3 linked regions of the Homo sapiens genome follow. The protein of the gene in region 1 interacts with the protein of each later gene in a biochemical or structural test. Each region holds a gene or a part of one and is shown on either strand. Other genes may lie near its edges.

What was found.
Region 2: the proteins of RAB6A (region 1) and CHM form a complex in vitro, tested with the Homo sapiens proteins (one study listed by BioGRID).
Region 3: the proteins of RAB6A (region 1) and APBA1 form a complex in vitro, tested with the Homo sapiens proteins (one study listed by IntAct).

Annotation. Positions count from the first base shown.
Region 1 is NC_000011.10:73,715,987-73,723,097, forward strand, and holds part of RAB6A (ras-related protein Rab-6A), read right to left. Parts: intron 4,914-7,111; coding exon 4,860-4,913; intron 2,905-4,859; coding exon of another isoform or gene 2,799-2,904; intron 2,733-2,798; coding exon 2,627-2,732; intron 377-2,626; coding exon 265-376; intron 1-264. UniProt on the Homo sapiens protein: The small GTPases Rab are key regulators of intracellular membrane trafficking, from the formation of transport vesicles to their fusion with membranes.
Region 2 is NC_000023.11:86,044,476-86,052,224, forward strand, and holds the start of CHM (rab proteins geranylgeranyltransferase component A 1), read right to left. Parts: upstream 3,084-7,749; 5' UTR 3,058-3,083; coding exon 3,009-3,057; intron 2,854-3,008; exon of another isoform or gene 2,636-2,853; intron 1-2,635. UniProt on the Homo sapiens protein: Substrate-binding subunit of the Rab geranylgeranyltransferase (GGTase) complex.
Region 3 is NC_000009.12:69,515,326-69,522,436, forward strand, and holds part of APBA1 (amyloid-beta A4 precursor protein-binding family A member 1), read right to left. Parts: intron 1,955-7,111; 5' UTR 1,886-1,954; coding exon 686-1,885; intron 1-685. UniProt on the Homo sapiens protein: Putative function in synaptic vesicle exocytosis by binding to Munc18-1, an essential component of the synaptic vesicle exocytotic machinery. May modulate processing of the amyloid-beta precursor protein (APP) and hence formation of APP-beta.

The sequences.
Region 1 (7,111 bases):
AAATATTTACTGGCTTCATGTCTAAACAAACTTGCACAAGAGTTATTTACACATGGGCTTAAACAAAATAAAATTCATTTCCCTTAAGGACTGGCTGTTTAATATTTACATTTATATTTGAGGTTCCCATGCTAAAGAAAAGCAGGGGAGGACGTAAACTTAAGGATTAAGCATGTCTCCTTTCAAAACAATTTCTCAGTGAACAAAAATAAAAGGCTGCATCACAGAAATCAAACATTACACACATATAAAATAACTCCATACCTCTTGTCAGCAAGATCTGTTTTATTTCCTACTAGCATGATGATAACATCACTTCCTCTTTCTGTTCTGACATCATCAATCCACTTTGTAGTTTGCTGGAATGAGTTAACATCTAGTATAGGAGGGTAGACAGAGAGATTAGTGTTGCTGAAAAATGCCTCCCCAGGTGGTGGGCACCTCCCTCCAAAAAAGCCCTGGAAGTTGGAAGGGGGCTGGCACATTAGTACCCCACTTTTAATGTGCCTGCAACATAACTCCATTTTATCTGATTACAACTGTCAGCAATTTAAACAAATTACAAGAATAAAATCTTCAAGGTTCCTTTTAGAGTAGTTTAAAAATTTTTTGAACATGATCAAATGAGTACAATGTAGTATTTAATTGAAAAAAAAACAACTTTTTGAAATATAAGGACAGCTATGGCAGATAATATGGTGTCACATTGCCACAATGCTTTTTTGATCACTTACACATACCAAACATGACAAAGAAAGCATTTTCCAAAGTATGTCAGCCAGTAAGTCCCAACACATCCAGAAAATCTGTAAAGCCTTTCAATAGCTTTCAACACCACTGTTTGCACTGCTTCCTCAGTTTGTGATCACTTTAACCTAAAGTTTATTTGTTTAATGCATCAGAAACACTTGTAACAAAATTTATCTTTTCTAGTGTTGGATTCTAAGTAGAGTACTTCAACACTTCTTACAGCAGCTAAAGAAAACAACGTACTAATATTTGAATCACATTTGTGGATTTAAAAAAAAATACACCAGGTTTCACTTGCTGTGGTTAAAGTAAGCACAAACATTTTAAAGCTACAAAACGTGTCAATGCACAATATGAACATACCTCTTTTTTTTAAACAAACAGCAACCCAAAGTAAAGGTGCAAAGGAAGAAAGACTGCATATAGCACCTATCTCAAAAAAAGTCCTTGAATGCAATCTTCTAATTTTGCCAGCACAATTATTCGTTATTAGATAACAATTCCTAATTGAGGAGATATGCAAGAATGCATAGTAACAGTATTACTAGTCCAAATGAATAGTTCCTTTGTCTATTTAAGATTTTTTTTAGCCCAAGATACTACATCTGTGTAGTGTGGTACACATTTTTTAAAAATTTAAAAAGAAAGCCCCAGATACTGGGCTGGGCACAATGGTTCATGCCTGTAACCCTAGCACTTTAGTTTTTGTTGTTGTTGTTGTAGTTGAGACAGAGTTTTGTTCTTGTTGCCCAGGCTGGAGTGCAATGGCACGGTCTTGGCTCACTGCAACCTCCGCCTCCCAGGTTCAAGAGGTTTTCCTGCCTCAGTCTCTCAAGTAGCTGGGATTACAGGCATGCACCACCACACCTGGCTAATTTTGCATTTTTAGTAGAGATGGAGTTTCATCACGTTGGTCAGGCTGGTCTCAAACTCCTGACCTCAGGTGATCCGCCTGCCTTGGCCACCCAAAATATGGGGATTTCCGGCGTGAGCCACTGTGCCCGGCCTAAACCTAGCACTTTAGAAGGCTGAGGCAGGAGGATCACTTGAACCCAGGAGTTCAAGACCCTGGTTTTCCTATAAGTTATGAACCACTACATGTAATAATGTTTAATATTGCCTAATATATGTCATAAACCAATTTACAAAGGCAATTTCAATCAGAAAGCATTTTCTTGTCAGTCACCAATGCTTCATGGAAAATTTACAATCACTTAAAAGGCCACAGGCATTATTCAATCTTTAGAAAAAAGAAAAAGACTACTAGTTGTTTCACCTCCTATTTAAAATTTTTTTCTTGGAGAGAAATGAAAGTGTAATTTGTTAGCAACAAAGTAAATAAATCAGTCACAGAACCAAAATATGATTCAAATAAAAAAGATTAATAGAAAACTGTACATTATGTTTTCTCTGTCTTCCTCTACAGAGAGAGAATGGCTGGAAGGGGAAAGCAGAGAAAAGCTGGCTAGCAGAAGCTTGTAATAGCCTCAATAGAAAGCTTGGAGGATTTGGAAAACCTGGCAAGAGACTTAAATGCAGATCATTTTATTTTAGAGAAATCTGAGATCAAGGAAACATTCCTCCAACTATAATTATGGTATGGTTTACGAATAACAGGATACTAAGAAACCCTTGAAGAGGATTCATAGTTGGACCCAAAAGAAAATTTCTGGGGCAAAAAACCTGGCACAGTTACATATAAAGCATATTGGTATAAACACCAAAGCAAATATTTCTGACCTGGCTGGTATGTAATTTACTATGATAAAACTTATTTTTACATGCCAGTAAGGAAAACAAGCACAAGACAAGAACATGCATGCAGCTAAGCTAAAGGTTGAAAGAAGATTAGAAATGCATAATTCCCTCCACTCACTTGTGATATCATAAACAACAACTGCCACAGTGGAGTCACGAATGTAGCTAGGAATCAAGCTCCTGAACCGCTCTTGACCTGCTGTGTCCCATAATTGCAATCGTACCTAACAACAAAATCAGTCAAACAAGCAAGAAAAATAAGAAAGGTCAACCCGTTGCAATATACCTACTTGTGATATCGTAAACTACTACAGCTGCAGCAGAATCACGGATGTAACTGGGAATGAGGCTACGGAAACGTTCCTGACCCGCAGTATCCCACAGCTGAAGCCTGATCTGTGAGATGGGAAAAAATAAATAAAAAAAAAAAAACCAAACTAATACTAAAAAGAAAAAAGAAACAATGTTTTTTGTAAAAGGGAGAGGGTGGGAAGGAAGTAGAAAGAAGACTCATGCAAGAGGTTGCAGGGAGTGAGGAATGAAAATAACACAAAACTCCTTTTTCAAAAGGGAGAAATATTAAAAATTTGCATACTCCAAACATAAATGACTGGAAAATGCCACTGGGAAAAATTTCACAGAATCAGAAATATGGCTTCCCTTTTTCCCTACCTAAAACCTGTTTGAATCCCTATGCCTTTCAAGTGGCAAAAAGTAGACTGTTGATGGTTAAATAGAGAAAAAAACAAAACAAAACAAAAAAACCTAAGGTAAATGTCAATGAGCAGCCTAAGCTATCAGAGTAAAGGAATTAATGCTTCTTTGAAAGCTTCTCTCAAGCTAAAATGTGTCTCTTTCCTATTGGGTCTAGAATACTTTCAAACCTGTTTTTTAACTACCGTGCTTGTATTTCTCCCATACATTTTCCCCAGAACATGCGAGTGTGTGCGCGCACGCATGCACGCGTGTGTGTGTATAATGTAACAAAAAGGAGGAAGATCTTTTTGCAGCCCTACATAAAAATGTCTTTACGTACTATCCATATCTATATTACAGGAAGAAAAGCCTGAAAACAAGTATCAAGTTCTTGCATCATGATAAAGTCGTTTCCAAGCTTTCAAATTTTTTTTTTTTTTTTTAGACAGACTCTCATTCTTGTCGCTCAGGCTGAAGTGCAGTGGTGTGATCTCGGCTCACTGCAACCTCTGCCTCCCGGGTTCAAACGATTCTCCTGCCTCAGCCTCCCGAGTAGCTGGGATTACAGGCGCCCGCCACCACGCCCAGCTAATTTTTGTATTTTTAGAAAAGATGGGGTTTCGCCATGTTGGCCAGGCTGGTCTTCAACTCCTGACCTCAGGTGATCTGTCCATCCTGGCCTCCCAAAGTGCTGGGATTACAGGCGTGAGCCACCACACCTGGCCGCTTTCAAATTTTAAGAAATGACATGCTATATATCAAAACATAAAAGAGAATATTCAGGAAAAAAAAAACACCTAAGAAATAACACTGGAAATTAAATAATGTTTTTGGGTGCAGGTCTCAAAGTACTGCATTTAAGATATTCACTGTTTAGGTGACAAGTATCTCTTCAAGGGGTAGTGGGCTAGAATACAGATTTTACACTGTATTTAAAGAAAACATTCCAAAGGATGAAAGACAAAAATCCAACAAATAAATACACATTACTTTTTTTTTTTTTTTTTGCAACGGAGTTTCGCTCTTGTTGCCCAGGCTAGAGTGCAATGGCGCAATCTCAGCTCACTGCAACCTCTGCATCCTGGATTCAAGCGATTCTCCTGCCTCAGCCTCCCAAGTAGCTGGGATTATAGGCGCCCGCCACCACGCCTGGCTAATTTTTTGTATTTTTAATAGAGATGGGGTTTCATCATGTTGGCCAAGCTGGTCTCAAACTCCTGACCTCAGATGATCCACCTGCCTCAGCCTCCCAAAGTGCTGGGATTACAGGTGTGAGCCACCGCACCCTGCCCACATAACTTCTTTTTTGTCAGTCACTTTGATACGCATCCTATCCTGACAAAAAAAATCTTGAAGTTCACAAATTGAAATCTTTTTGAATGCCTCAAGGGTGGCATTTAGAAGGTCTTTAGCAGGTTTAATTTCTTCATAAAAATTCTCCTTTAATTCTCTGTAAAGCTCTTTGTTTTCATTTTTCCAAATCAAGATGACTGCCAAGTACTACTCACTCGGTAATAAGAGTTTTTCTCAACAACTGTAAACTATCTTTGGTAACTTTGCTAAGTACTTCTTATGGTGACAATCATTGATAACTTTGATTGCAGTTTTCTAACCTGGAATGTTGCAGAAAATTGCACACTGAAAATATTACTCACTGTTCGATCCTCCAAGTACATAGTTTTTGATAAAAAGTCAATGCCAATTGTTGCCTGTAAAACAAAACAAAGAAGTTAACAAATAATAAGTTTAATGGTGGCCAGCAGTTTAGGATTCAAATGGGATTCATGATTGTGGAAGAAATAATGAATAAACAAATCAATACAACATAGTCAATTAAGGACAATTAAGGACAAACAAAATTTCCAGTGATAATGATTTTCATGTATTCAGCACTTGCTTCATATCAGAGATTGTTTTAAGCCTTTTACATGATCATCTCTAATCTTTATACATTCCTGCCAGGTAGCTTATTCTCATCCCTACTTTTCTCATTTTACAAATAACAAGACAATGGCAACTTTGGTTTAAATATTTGTATTTGAACTTTAGTTTGAGTATCTGATTGTTCTCCACTCAGAATGGTAAGTATCTGCCCCAAGAGCAGTTTTATAAAATACTGTTGATATATTGTCAACTGTCCTAATGCCATAGACAGCCAGAGACTCACAAACATCATAACTTTCCATAAGAGACATGATTTTTCCAATATAAAATAAAAGTCATTAGGTAAGGAAAACAAGTTTTCCTCTGTACCACACAATGATAGCTTCCTTCTGTGGTGAAAACAAATGTAAAGTTCTATTGCCTGGCTGCTGTTTTCCCTATCAAGAGAAAATGGTGAAATAATAAGAGAATAGAAAGAAGGCAGACTACAAAAAAGAAAGGAAAAAAAGTATACAAGTTAAAAAACAGTCCAGTATTAATTAGGGGAGATAAATAAAAAGAATGGAAGAAAGACAGACTCCAGAAAGAGGATGTTGATATGGACTCTATTTTAGAAGTTTTACCACCTCATTAATGTTTGTGTGCACATATACTATGTATATATGTGCGTGTACATACATACTTTTTCCCTAAATATCTTTGTGCCATATTCCTTAAAACAGAAACTGAGTCTGTGCATTTTAAAATATGAGTCACTAAGAATTTTAAGTTCCTAAAAAACAATCAAAAACTAGATCAGAAAAGTGGTCCATCAGTTGGGGATTTTATTTCTGTTAGCAGAAAAATAGAATTTTGTGTGTGTCATAGTTGAGTTCTCACGAGATCTGATGGTTTTATAAAAGGATTTCCCCTCTCTTTGCTCTGTGCTTCTCCTTGTTGCTGCCATGTGAAGAAGGACATGTTTGCTTCCCCTTCTGCCATGATTGTAAGTTTCCTGAGGCCTCCCCAGCCATGTGGAACTTGAGTCTATTAAACCTCTTTCCTTTATAAATTACCCAGTCTTGGGTTATCTCTTTATTAGCAGCATGAGAACAAACTAATACATGTGTCTCCTTTAATTTCTCCCAGCAGTGTTTTGTATAGTCTTATGCTGTTTGTTAAATTTGTTCCTAAGTATTTTATTCTTTTCTGATGCTTCCGTAAATAAAATTCAAATATATATGTGTGTGTGTATATATATATATATATATATATATATATATATATATATTTTTTTTTTTTTTTTTTTTTTTTGAGACAGTCTCACACTCTTGCCCAAGCTGGTATATAGGGGTGTGATTTTGTCTCAGTGCAGCCTCAACCTCCTGGCTCAAGCAATCCTCTCGAGTAGCTGGGACTACAGGTGCATGCCACCATGCCCCACTAATTTCTGTATTTTTTTATAGAGACAGGGTTTTGCCATGTTGTCCAGGCTAGTCTGGAACCCCTAGGTTCAAGAGATCTTCCCCACTTGGCCTTCCAACACGCTGGGACTATAGGCATGAGCCACTACACCCTGCCTAAAGATAATATCTTTATATGAAAAATCAATGCAATGTTGATAAGTCTTTACATGTTTTTACATATATTCAAGAATGAAAGCTACAGTAAATTACATAAATTGATTATCTACTAAGTGCCGATTTATACACATTGCCCCATTTAGTTCTCATTTATTCGTTCATCGATTATTTATTTATTTATTTATTTAGAGACAGAGTCTCGCTCAGTCGCCCAGGCTGGAGTGCAGTGGCGTGATCTCGGCTCACCGCAATTTCTGCCTCCTGGGTTCAAGCAATTTTAGTGCCTCAGCCTCTCAAGTAGCTGGGATTACAGGCATTCACCACCAAGCCCAGCTACTTTTTGTATTTTTAGTAGAGATGGGGTTTTGTCATGTTGGACAGGCTGGTCTCGAACTCCTGGCCTCAAGTGATTCCCCCCGACCTCGGCCTCCCAAAGTGCCAGGATTATAGGCATGAGCCAA
Region 2 (7,749 bases), on another chromosome or scaffold:
TCCCCTATGTATGAAGCATGTCAATATTATCATATAGATCTTATAACTTCCATCTTGACTGCTCTTCTGTTGAGTTCTTGGCTCTGCTGTGCTGCAGATTACACAGGCTTCCAGATAAGTCACCTCCAGTGAGATGTAATGTTACTGGGACGACTTTTAACGTTCAACCAATGGTACTTGTCTATAATCCACAAAACTGTCATTTAAATGACTTTTTAAATGGCAAAATACCCTGAAAATGACAATTCTGTACCCAAGCTGAAGAGCACCTTCTAGACCCTTACCACATATATCTATTTTTATCCTCTCCCTTGAGACTCCAGTTGGCCCTCCTTCTTTATTCCATTTTCTTCTATTTTTTCCGCAATTCCACTTTAGCTTACTCTTCTGTCTTTGGATGTTCAAGAGATATTTACTGTATTTTCTAATCAGAAGGAAATGGGCTTAACTAAGAAAATACAAAGTTTATTTTTTTCCATAATCTCTCGAAAATATGATCTTAAGGAACAATTTCCATCTTGCATTACAGAAAATGATAATGCAAGTTAATCAAGGTGAAAGGGATTATAAAATATTATCTTCCATGATTATACTTGATGAAGCAATTGTTCCTTTATGACATTTTAACTAGGACTAAATCTGCTAAAAAGTATATCTAATAGCCTATTTCTTCATGTTTCTGATGCATGCATTATTGCTTCTACTTTTATTAATACAACTGAATCTATGAAACACTGCTTTTTCTATGATTTGCTCAATGTAATACATTTAATAAAGCAAACATTTTAAAGGCTACTTTCAGCAAACTATTTCACAAGAGAAATATCCCAAGCACACTAAAAAATAAATCAAATTAAATCATGATTGGAATTGTTGGAATCATTTATTTGGGGAATGACTCTTTTATTCAATTTTTACACTTTTGATGTACCTAAAAGCAAAATTACATATCATAAATTTAAGCAATGTGCTTGATAAAACCTAGAATGTGTCACCAATAAACAATATGAAAAATTTAAGTTTTAAGATTAACTTCAAATAAGTTCTTCCCAAACACTGAAAAATAACATTGCACTCACTGGGATAAGTATAAAATGAGTATTTTTCCAAATATAAGCGATGTCACCTGATGCAATTCTCTGGCTCACTCACTGTAACTTCCTACCTCTACCATAACAGACTCCATCAGGATGGATGTCTTCCAATTCTGAACTGTACAGAAGGCAAAATATTTATGAAAAACATTAGCATCATTCATAAGAATTAACATTCATCAATTAAAATTTGAACCCAGACCTGAAAAAAAAAATTGTTGATTAAAAAAATTGTTAAAAACACCTCAAGTTCCTACACAAAAAAAGCAAGATTATAAAACTCAAGTATGGTATAACAACTATTCCAAAATGGATGCTGTTCTCAGTTTTAGTATAGACTTAAAAGAAAAAATGAATAGTCCATTGGCTCTTTCCAGCTCTCATCCAACATCTGTTCATAGCAGCTACAACCAGGTTATTTGCAGCCATGCAGTTATTTTCAGGCTAAGAATAAACCTGTCCATGCTGTTCTGAGAACTGTTACCCAGGCATTTTTTGTTAGACAACATAAAGACCATCTATTTTACCTTCCTTATATTCAAAAACAAGGAAACTGAGGCTCAGAGAGATTTAGTGCCTGGCCCTCCCAATTCAAGCAATTCATACTAGCACTAAGCAAGACCTAAAACCAAGTTTTCTCAATTGTTTCTACGAATATGGGTCAACTCTGAGGATCAGAACCACTGACTGTTTTCCTGGGATGGAATGGGCCTTTGGAAATTTACCAGCTGTGTGATCCTGAGCAAATTACAACTTTTCCAAGTCCCCTTTTCCTCTTCTACAAAATGCAGAGAGTACCTACTACTCTAACAAGGTTGTGAGGATTATGTTCGGCTTGTAAAGTGCTTAGCACAGTGATTAGGAAATTTTAAGCATTCGAAAACAGGTAGCTATTATTTTTACTCCCAACCTGAAAACATGGCTGCTCCTAATCATGGCTGTATGAGAAGACAACGAACTGAATTCATTAACACAATGGACAGGGTCCCATCCACCAGAGCTTCTCTGGCCTACCACATTCTACAAACAGTAAAAAACCCCATCAAACAACCTATTTCATTCCATCTAAAATGATCATCCCTTACACTATTAAAAAAAATTGAAATTGCTGCCATATGTGTTCTGCTACGTGTTGTACACTGAATATGTCAACTAGAAACTGCAGAGGAGTTTCTGGTTCCACCCAAAACATGAAGAACAAACGACGGGAAAACAAGAGTTAGATAAGGTCACACACCTGAACTGGAACTCAGGACCTTATTCTCAGCACATTTAGTTATTGATGGTAGAAAGCAAGATGCTTTAAGCACCATAAAGCAGGAATAATGGCTACCTCAACAAAATAAAATTCCCTAGGTTTCTCAACAAAATAGAATCCGTTTACTTTCCCTAGTAAATTCATACGCACATGGGCAATAATTGAGCATCTTTCTTGTAAAACTGAGGATTAAGCTGTGTCTGAGCTGCGATGTATGCTAAGATCATACAAATCTATGAAAAAGTCCTATGAAATGGCGAGACAAAATGATGGGGAATATCACCTTGAAATCAATAAGGAAGGAATCATAATGTCTTGCCAAAGTCGTCTCCGTTGATAAAATCCCGACCCTCCATTTCATGACACTGCACATCCACTTCCCTCTAAGGAAATTAACAGGAATCACCGCAGCAACCAACCTCAGCAATCAGCATCGACCAGATCAACCCCTACTCAAATGGCGATAAGCACTGCGGGTCCCAGCCCCTCCCTGTAACTGCCAACTCCCGCGCTGACTCCGGACTACCTCACTTCCTTTCAGTTCTCCCTCCCACTCTCGACCCACGATGTTTGTCCCAAAACTCGCCACTGACAGAAAAAACAGAAACAAGACAGTCTTCCTAAACTTTGTCCAGGAAGCACCAGGCTACACATACCCGTCCCTATTACGATCACATCAAACTCCGAAGGGAGAGTATCCGCCATCTTGACGGGAAACGTGTCATGTGACTATTACTTGTGGAAATGAGATCAAGTTAGGCATTCCCTCCGTGGAAGGCGGAAAAGAAAACAGTGCATTCTGGGTGTTGTAGTTCTTGGGTGGAAGGTCCAGGCAGGCGACTACAGTATTATATTTAAAATGTTTACACGTAAGTTAAAAGCTCGACTCATTTTCCAGGCTGAATGCTGTAGCTCATTTAGCCTGGAGGGTTGAAGTAGGAAAGAAATGTAGATTTTTATTCCGTTAGCTAGGATGAATGTGGGAGACTTGGATACCCCTTGACAATACTGAAGCAAAATTGTTAGGAGACACGGAGAGCGGAGTGAAATTGAAGGCGGTTTGCTCTGTGAACAAAGGAGACTTTCATTCCAGCCTAAAAAACTGTTTCCCGCCATCGTTTCTGTACTTTCGTGTTGGCCCTCGAGGCATGGTTTTTCACACCAATACTTTCAGAATATATTCCATATCTTTTTCGTTTCCATGTCTCCTCGATGAAAACCCACAAAAAACCTCTCACCCTAGTTTCGCCAGAATGGAACTCCCACCGCGTCCGTATTTGTTCCAGTTAGTCCAGACAGCCACTCGGGCAATAAATTAGCCTTGCTTTACAGGAGGGAAAAAATATATGAAAGCATGGTTGCGCTGGATAAGCGTCTGTTGAGTCTGAATTCGATTTTCCGCACCAACTAGATAAGTTCATGTAAGATTCTCCTTAGTTTACATTTAGTTTCCAATCTATTAGTTTCCATAAGCTACCGTAGAAATAATTAAGGTAAAATGGTCTTTATATTAAAGTGATTGTATCTGATGAGGGGCTTTAGGTCGTCTATGTCTAACAGCTAACATAGCTCTCATAAGTATCTTCAAGGTCTGTCGCCTCCCACCGCTTCCCTCCAACCGCCCCCCACCCTGCCCCCGATTATTTAATACTCCGCTGTCTGACAACACCAAAGCAAAAGGGGAAGGATGCTGGGAATGAAGGAGGATACTTTTTTGACGACAGAAATTTCTTGTGTAGTTATTTTACAAGAGTTTCAAAATAAATCAAAGATAATGTGCAGTAGTGGGCCTTCCCTGACACCACCTATCCGCTAAGATGCTTGTGGTTCCCCAGACATTGTTTTCTTTCCAGTCTCTGACCACGCTCATGCTGTTCTTTCAGCATGGAATGATCTTCCCATTCTCTAGCTAACAGTTATTCCCAGGATGTCGCTGGGCTTCCACCTCCTCCTCCTTTCGTCTCCGTGTGTGGGCTGTTTCCCTACATGGTGCTAGACTTTGTCTTAACCCGCCATACTGCATTTATGACGATTCCTATAGAGTACACATATCCCCATATATCCACACAAAAATACACACCCAGACATGCAATACCATAATTATAAACCCCTGTACAGCATGACAGACACCAAGTCTCATTTATCTTTTTCACTCCTGCACCTAACCTAAGCCCGGTGCATAGTAGGAATTTAATAAATGTTTGCTAAACCAAACTTGATTTTGACTCCCCTAATAGATGGATGAGACGAGTCCCTGTCCTCATAGTGCTTACCATCTTTGCCTTTATATCTGCCCACCACTATCATGTGTCTTATATTTAGAAGATGTTCAGTGTCCATTAATTGTAAATATTTACATGAAAATGCTTTAAAATGTATTTTGATACGCTTTTTACTGCATTTCTCTTGCATTTTACCATAATCATTAGCAACATTGTACATGTTTCATTACTTTCTTTTATAGATCATCCAGTTGTATTACACAACTCTCTTAAGATATGGTCTTTGATTAGTATTTTCTGTAAAACAGATTCCCCTGAGAAGTATAATGTACTGTTCAGTAAACCACTTTGTCATTTGCCTTGGTATGTAAAGCAAGTTTTTAGTATTATCAGAAGTGAAACAGATATTATTTGTGAGACTCTTGATAAGACAGTAGAAAATGGAAACAAATGGATTTCTCAGAGTAAACACAGAAAACTTTCCAAAATCTTCTCTAATAATGAGAAGCCACAGATGGATGGTTAAAAACCTGATAAATAAAAGTATTTCTACCATACTTTGGATATATATTTATATACATTTGTTCATGTATACGAGATATATAAACTACATACATATACTTTTCAATATGAGTATCACTGACCTTCTAGGGATTCAGAAATTTTCTGACAATCACACCATGAAGATGCAATTCATTAATTTGTTTATTCCTCAAATATTCATTCAGCACCTACTATGTGCAAGACACTATTTTGGATGCTGAGATTAGAGCAATGAACAAAACAGACAACAACCCCTGTCTTCATGAAGTTTACATTTAGTAGGGTAAAACAAAATAAACAAGTAATTACTCTGTAGCATAGATTTTCCAATCTGTGCTGCCCTTAGTTTGAAACCTTCTTTTTTTCCCCTAAGGATAGAAAGCACAATCCTCAGAAGGATAATATTACCAACTTATATTTTGCTGTTCTTTCTCTAAAGTTATTATGGGACTTATTCATGCCCTTTTCTGGGCATGGAAAAGATTACTACATTAGGAAAATTTCAATCTTGTGCATGGAGAAAATGCTCCAAATACCTTTTATTTCAAATGTATTTTTGTAGACTTTATGCAAAGTAAAGATGAATATAGGAGTTAATAATTGCAGTAAAAAAAGCGTAAAGCAAAACAGCTGAATTGCATCTATTCTGTTATTCTAAGGACATCTTTTTTTTTTTTTTTTTTTTTTTTTGAGACGGAGTCTCTCTCTGTCGCCCAGGCTGGAGTGCAGTGGCGCCATCTCCGCTCACTGCAAGCTCCGCCTCCCGGGTTCACGCCATTCTCCTGCCTCAGCCTCCCGAGTTGCGGGGACTACAGGCGCCCGCCACCACACACGGCTAATTTTTTGTATTTTTAGTAGAGACGGGGTTTCACCATGTTAGCCAAGATGGTCTCCATCTCCTGACCTCGTGATCCGCCCGCCTTGACCTCCCAAAGTGCTGGGATTACAGGCGTGAGCCACCCCACTGGGCCAAAGACTATGTACATTGGAGATAGTCATCTTGCATAATATGTCTCAGAGATTCTCTGAATTTCTTGAATTTGCATGTCGACCTCTCTTGCAAGGTTGGGGAATTTTTCATGTATTATATCCTGAAATATGTTTTTCAACTTGCTTACTGTCACTTCTTTTCTCTCAGGAATGCCAATGAGTTGTAGGTTTGATCATTTTACATAATCCCATATCTCTCCGAGGCTTCATTCATTTTTTGAAACTCCTTTTTCTTTTTCTTTGTCTGTGTAGGTTGATTAGAATAACCAGTCTTCAAGCACCAAAATTCTTTCCTCTGCTTTGTCTAGTCTGTTGTTAAGGCATTCAACTGTATTTTGAAATTCCTATAGTGAATTTTCCAATTTCAGAAGTTCAGTTTGGTTATTTATTAATATGACTGCTTCATCTGTCAAGTCTTGGATCGTTTTTCTGGCTTCCTTGGATTGAATTTCAAGGATGCTTACTGAGCATCCTTGACATCCAGTTTCTGAATTCTTTGTCTCATTTCAGACATTTCAATTGAAAAGAGATTCTTAGAAAATAGTTGTGTTTGTATGAATGTGTATCTCTTAACACTATGAAAAATAAGCAATAATAATTCAGGAAGTAGATTATTACATCTTATTATAAGTTCCAGACTTATAAAGAATTTTTTTCAATTCAGAACTAGTATTAAAGCTAATTTTGAATTAAAAAATGTGTCTCCAAGCCTGTAGTTGTAGTGGTGGTAAAAATTTACCAGTACCAATACTCTGGACAATAAAACAGAGCTAAAAGTAAAGAAAGTCCAGTCTACTGGAGAATATCCTCAAATTACATGAACTAGTGCTGTTGTGAGTATACAACCCCCTTGAGGAGTTTCACAATATATCCAGATGAAGTTAACTTAAAGTTTTCCATTTCAAATGTGTATAAATACTATTCTATCATACCATTTTTGTTTATAAAATTGAGGTCTTTGAGTTCATGTTCAATTCCATCTTTAAAAGATAATCAATGTCATGACAGCAATTATTTCCATATATTAGAAATATTTTTTAAGTGTTAGTTTTAGTAACAAAATGATTATTTGTACTAACTATTGTATTTGTCAGCTTCTTCAATACAGAAATATTCAGAACACATTTACATTTTTCATAGTCCCTGCAAAACAAAACAAAACGAAACAAAACAAAGAGGCTGAATAATTTTGTGGGAATTTCATCAACCTTTATAGAAAGTCTTGCTATTCTTCTTTTAGCTGTTTAATTGTAATGTCATAGTAACAGAAAGCAGCATACCCAATTTTGCATGGATGAATAAACACATTCAATAAGGAAGATTTAACAGAGTAAATCAAACACTGGATTAAACATTTTCTGCATAACAGACCACAAAATGGGCATTCATTTTACCAATGGATCCTTGGCATTAGAAGCAAATAGAAGTGCATACCAACATAATTAAACTGAATATTCAGTGGCCTGATTGCAAAGTTTCCCAATATTTTATCAAACGATCTTCCAGTTAATTAAAATTGCCTATACATATTCAAGCACACACATAGAAAAGATTAAGTATAGATACTACTCATTTAAATTTATAATTCAATAGATTAACTTGTTTTCTTCTATTTTTTATCCCCAAAGTTTGAATATAGTAA
Region 3 (7,111 bases), on another chromosome or scaffold:
TGGCCAGCATACAACCACTCCTGAGAAAACGCTGGTCTCAGGTGGAAACATTCTCTGATCCACAGCACATTCAACTCCCACCCTTTTCATGCCACTTTCACATACCCTATTCTTTCTACTTGGCTACTCCTCCCTATAAAACAACTTCCCCCTTGTACCTAACTCTAGAGACCCTTAAAGATCTTAAGGTCAGAGGTTCTCATATGGCAACAGTCCTTCCTCCCTAAAACGAAACAGTATCTTTCTCCCCTTTGCAATAATCCTTTCCAGTGAAGTCTCTCCTTCCTCAAGCATGGCTTGTTTTTTATTTGGCATTAGAAATACAAATTCTCGGGCCCCACTCCATACTTTCTGAATCAGAAACTGGGGGGGGGGGGGGCGGGGGGTGGAGGGCGATGTACCCAATAATGCATTTCTCACAAGGTCTCCAGGCACAGTGTGGGAAGCACTGATTTGAGGCCATCCTGCTAAGAATCTGATGAGTGCATTCAACACTTTAATTCTCTCCCGCTGGCGTTTGACAGTTTAGGTGCAAGCTGTTTCTGAGGCTTACGGTGGAAAAGTTCTTAGCGTCCCCACAGACTACTTCCCGTAAAGTCACTACCCAAGGGCACACAAGGCCATGGGGCGCCATCTTCCCTCCCACCGCGTGGGGCCGAGGAAGCCCAAACCCGCACCTACTTACATCTCCGTCCATCGGCCTCTGGTCGTCACAGTCCCTGGTGGGGCTAATGTCCTGGCGCATGACCCAGATGGGCTCTTTGGGCTCGTCGGGGGTGTAAGGCGAACGGATGGTCCTGGTTTTCACCTCCTCGATGGCCTCCTTGATGTCCTTGATGGCCAGCGAGATGGCATCGCGCTTCTCCTTGCTGTACCGCTGCCCCGCCTCGCCGCCGCCCGCGGGGCCCACCGCCCGCTGCTGCCCCGCCGGCGCCTGCAGCCCGGGGCTGTCGGGGCGACCCCCGGCCGGGGTAGGGGGACGCTCCAGGTCCTGCTCGGCCTCAGGCATGTCCTCGGCTGCCTTGTCGAGGCTCTGCGAGCTCATGCTCTGCTTCACCTCGGCCACTATCTGGTCGATGTCCTCCTCCTGCTCGTAGCTGTCCATGCGCGGGTAGGGCGCGAACTCGGCCTCCTTCTCGGGGCTGTCGGACTCGCCGTCGGAGCGCTCGTCGTAATGGTGCAGCCGCGCGCCCAGGGCCTCCTGGCGGTACGCGGCCGCCTCGTCGCGCTCCTGCTCGTAGAGCCGCAGGCCGTCGCGTGCGTCCAGCTCGGGCGCGTCCCCTATCTCCTCGTACACGTGCTCCTGGAGGCCGCCGTAGTCGGCATAGGGCTCGGAGTAGGGCTCGTCCTCACCGCGGTGGAAGAGCCGGTGCGTGTAGACGTAGCCTGAGTAGGCCGCATTCATGGCTTCCTCGTGCTCCAGCGAGTGGAAGTGCAGGTGGTTGGGCAGCGCGCGGCGGTGCGTGGCCTCGGCGTGCTCGGCCTCTGCCTGCTCCGTGTACTCCTCGGCCTCGGGCCGGTACTGCACAGCATAGGCGCTCTCGTCCTCGGGGTCCTGCGCGCGCTCCGCATCGTAGCCGTCGCGGGCCGCGGCGATCACGTCGCCCTCGGCGGTGTCCGTGTGGTTGTGGAAGCCGCTCTCCGTGCTGGCTGAGCGCGCCAGGCATTCCCCGCGCTCCTCTTCCTCCTGGCCGAGCTGGGCGCGGAGGTCCTCGAGGGCTCGCCCGCGCTGGTGGCGGCCCACATAGTGCTGCTGCTGCGGCGGCTGCTGCTGTTCCTCTTCCACCTCGGGGTGCTCCAGGTCGGCCTCCACCGACTCGTTCACCTCCCCACCTGCCGCCTCGTCGGTCACCTCCACCTCCGCAGACCCCTCCAAGTGGTTCATGGTGGGAGTCGGAACGGCTAGGAGAGAAGCTGGGCCCGGCTCACTGCGCTCTCATTTTGCTCCACTGGGCTGGAAAAACAAGAAGGGGAGAGGCTGTCACGTGGTGCAAACAGTCGTTATGAGCTGAGTATTCAGATAACCATAAAAACAACTGCTATTGATTCCTTTTAGTTCTGGGTCAATTAAAAAAAGACTGCAAATTTAAGTTCAATCTGACAGCACATACATAGCACGCATCATAATTTGTAATTACATATCTACTTGTTTAATTGCTTATTGCCTTTCTCCGTTCCCACCCCTCACACTGAGCGCCTCAGGAACGTTTTGTTCTCCACCACGCATACGATTCAGGTCCCATTTCTGATGCATCTGAATAAAGAGTACTACTAAATTGAATGGGCCAACTGACACATTTTCCATCTGCTAACAGATAAATCTCTCCAAATTAAACTAGGATCCTACAACTTTAGAAATCACTCTTTACATCAATTTCAAAGAAACATAATCTTGAACACCTTTTGAAGCCATTCTGAGAGAGGCTATCAGCCAGCAGTGGGGTCCCGCCCCGGTTCTGTCATTACTGACTTTGTGACCTCAGGCAAGTGGCTTAATTTTCTGGACCTCCACGGTGTGACTGGACTCATTTCCTACATGCAGGATGTTAACAGCTATTATATAGGGTAAAAAAGACTCGGTGGTCAAGTAAGTTTGGAAAATGCTGAGTTACAGTTGACTTTTCATTGTTAATATCCAGAAGGAGGAAGATGCAGGACACAGGGTTTCCCTAACTTGTTTGACCAGGAGACACTTTTTCCTAGAGGCCAATGTTACATAGCAGCTGGTTTCTAATAGTTAGGCTTCCCTATTGCGCACTCAGCATCCAGGATACAACCAACCACGGAAGACAATATTAGGGGAAAATATCCAACACAATACAACAATAAAAAATAATGCAAGTAAAAATACAGTATAACAACAATTTATATAGCATTTATATTGTATTAGGTATTATGAGAAATCTAGAGATGATTTACAGTATATGGGAGGATGTGCATAGATCATATGCAAATACTATACCATTTTATAATGGATTTTTATATCCACTGGGGTCCTGAAACCAACCCCCATGGATACCAAGGGAGGACTATATTCACTTTCCCCATGTAACCTGAATCTAAAATTCTAAGATTTTATGAGTTGCCATTATAGCTAGAACTGGATAACAGGTGTAATTTTTTAAAAATATGGGTAGGTCTCTTTCTATTTTCAGAGAAACTTGTAGCTCGAGAGAAAGATTTGGTTTCAGTCTCTCTCAATTCTTCTTATCACAAAATAGCTTTATGGTATAATCTGTGCAGTATATAGAAATAGACACAAAGAATGTAAACAACCACAACAAAACAGGCAGGACCCCTATGATTTTGAGATCCCTATGGTAAATAGGCTCAACAGTATGTGTAAACTTGCTATTATGTTCTTTTGGAGAGCCTTTCTTACAAATGGACACAATGGATGGGAAGTGAACTCTTAAATATGATAACAGACAACCCCAGGAGGACCAGGGACATCTGATGGACTCTCTAGTAGTGAGATGCATTATATTCTACTCAACTCCCCATCACAACCACAGCAATTTCCTTCAAGCATTGATGACCATCCCAATAACAAAGGAGATCATTTTGGAGCTACCAAGTCCACATTCAAGCAGAAGTATCATGTCTTCCCCATTCTTTGATGGATCCACCCCTGACTGATTCTCGCTAGAAGAAAAGAATCACGGTTTACAAGAGATGAACAATCTTTATTGCTTCGCTACTTGACATAAGTCCCACTTGATACAAATTAGACCCAACCTCTTTTGAAAAATTTTGGGCTCCTCCCATTAACTCCTGAGAACAGCGACTGTGGACTAAGTATAAGAAAGTCTCCAAAAGCAAGTATGAATCTCCCTTCAAACCTTGATGGATGGTTAAGGCTGTAAACCAGCAGCAGGGTGGGGTGGGGAATGATTAGAAGCTGTTCCACCTCAGATCATGAGGCATTAGTTAGATTTTCATAAGAGTGCATGACCTAGATCCTTTGCATGTGCAGTTCACAATAGAGTTCATGCTCCAATACTGGTCCATGGCCCAGTGGTTGGGGACCCCTGCTCTAAACAGAAGCAGCAAGTGTTGCTGCTACGGGCCTCCAGTGGATTATAAGAAACACAAAACAAATATTCAATTCAATACAACACATGGACAAGAACATCATACCCAAGTTGCCTTCATAAGGACTTTCTCAAAAAGACAACAGATAAACCTTCATTAAATCTACATTGGGTTCTTAAGGTACAAATCTAATTCTAATAAACACAAAGTGAGCATTCACAGAAAGGGATAGCAAACATATCACAGACTTTCTTGGGTTCTGTTACCCAGAGGTGTCACAGTTGTGTGTGGTCAGCGTAAGAAAAACAGTAACAAAAACCACAGAAAGTACCTGAATGACCAACAATTCATGATAACCATATGTGGAACTGACCAAAATGCTGCCTTCAGGGAAAATGGCTGTTCTTTAGCTTGATGAAAATCTATTGACATATGTATTAAAAAGAAATTTTAGCTTATTCTGGGTTAAAATCGGTGAATGGTGCCCTCTTATAACCCATGTATTGATTCAAAGGAAATGGAACTTCCTTGCGTGTATATACACTAAACTGTGGTAAAGGAAGTTCTCTGGTGGGGCAGGGGGTGGTGGAAGATAGTGTTAATGTAGTTTTGGTACAATAGATCTTTTTGTTCACTAAGTACCTTCTCCTTATACCCCCATCCACAGACCTCACGGGAGTATTTACACATACAGTGTTTGTATTTTACACACCATCATGTTTCCAAGAATATGATTTGGGTTGTGGTATTGCAACATGTTAATGAATAACAGACATTGACTTTGGGGGTTTCCCTAGGACAAAAAGGCAATTGTCAACTTTTAAGGAAGGAGCCGAAGTTGATGCTTAGGTTTATCCCTACACACAAGAGGACTGTTCTCCATACGCTGGCAACTTTGGGAGTGGTATTTATAAAAAACATTTAAGCTGCTTTTTAAAAATCCTAGGTTATTGTGGGAGTATATTATTGGTACAAAATTTTTGAAAAGCAATTTGGCAAGATGAATTAAATTCTTCAAAAGGTAACATACCTTTTGCCCCAGTAATTCTACATATAGAAGTCTAAAAGAAAAAACTTGAATGTGGACAAAAATGTTTCTCACAGTATTTTCTTCAAAAGCAAAAATTTTAAACACCAAATATTAAGCGCTAATATTTATTAGGTACTGATAAGTACAATGCTAATCATATTAGGGTTATATTGTGATCAGAAAGATGTGGGGGTTTTCTCTCTGGGAAGCTCCACCTGGAGTTCCCATAACACTTCAACTCAGCCAGCCACAGCTGAAGAAATCACACCTCCTCACCTTCCCTACCCACCCTCGCTCTCAAACTGGGTTCCCTCCTGTATTTCCCATATGGGCAAATGGTACCACCAGCCACCCACTGAATCATCTCCTTCCCTTATCTCCCTCCTCAAACTGATGCCAGAGTCCACTGTCTTAATAACTCTTGGATCAGTCTTGCTGCCACTGCTTTGTCTTGGTCTGTCTTGACTACCTGGTTGTTTCCTTGACTCTGATTTATCAGCCCCCTCCAGTCCATCCTCCCCACTGCCAGCCTGATGATCTTTAAAAAATACAAATCTGAATCCCATAACCCTACTCCTCAAACTCTTCAGTGATTCCCTTCTAGGGCACAGTATAAATGCTTAGCTAACTATGTCCCAGGTACTACTAGGCATTTTCCACGTGACACATTTAACCTTCACACTAGCTAATGAAGAGTACTGCCATTATCAGCTCTTCTGAAAATGAAGAAACAAGTGATTAGAAAGGTTAGGTGATTGTCCCAGGTCACACATCTGGTAAGGGAGGCCCCCTGACATTTGATCTTTGCACTCTAGCTCTGGGGTCTGGGCTCTTGAGTCCTATTCCTGGCCAACAAAGACCTTGGGATGCTTCACCCCTTTAGTCCATCTCCACACTTCATCCCGCACCCTGCATTCTAACAGCCAAAGTCCTGGTGTTGGCCCTAACTGCCCTCCCTATTCATGGCATATTTTAACCTATAACTTTTCTTTGGTGAATCTTTCTTGTCTTCCCCAGGCCACATTCATACTTGATGAATGTTAATTAGGTGCCAGCCTCCAGGCACATTCGAGGCACTGGGGCAGAACAGTGAGCAAGCCAGAGGAGGCTTCCCTGCTTTCAGGAAGTCCCCATTCTAGTGCACTGGGTCGGGGGTCAGAGGGAAAAAAGGGCAGACAATAATTATGTAAGTAAGTAAACAAGATAACTTCATAGGGAAACATTTTATGAAGGTAATACAAAACAGAGTAACGCCATAGAAAATGACTGAGGAGAGGACATTATGTAGATATTATTCAAAGAATGAGATATTTGAGTTGAGGTCTGAATAATCAAGAAAGAGGTGGCCTTGTGAAGATCTGAGGGCAAGGGCTTTGAGGTGAGAAAGGATCAGCTGTGTTCAAGGACAGAAATAATGTTTGTAGGCAGGTGTGGCGTGAGTAAGGGACAGTGTGATGGGCGATGAGGACAAAGAGATGGAAAGGGGCTGAGTTGGGCAGGGTCTGGTACATCATGGTAAAGGATGTGGATTTTATTTCAAGTGTGGTGGCATGCTACTGGGGAGTTTAAGCAGGGGATTGATAAGGCCCAACTAAGCCTCCCTTTGTGCCCGCTGTGCTTTTTCTCTCTCTCCCTTTCCCTTTCTCTCTCCGTCTCACACATACTCACACCATTTTATACACACACACACACACACATATATAAATTATATATATATATATGTGTGTGTGTATATATATAAAATTTATCATGGCTTCTATCATTCTGAGTGGTAATTCTTTGTAAGTATCAAGTCCTTAAGAAAAAGATGTTTTGTCATGTATCTTTGATTTTCTGATGCCAAGCACAGAGGGTATACAGAAGGTGGTAAAGGAATTTTTAGTAACTGAAAAAGGAAAAATCTTTATCCCCCACCCCTCCCACCCAATAGTTGGGGCCTTATAGACTTCTAGACATTGGCATGATCAGCCTTTGGAGAAGAACTCATTTCTTCTTTCTATCTTAAATCTTTGCTGCCCTTATTCACTCATGCAAACTCCTTCAACT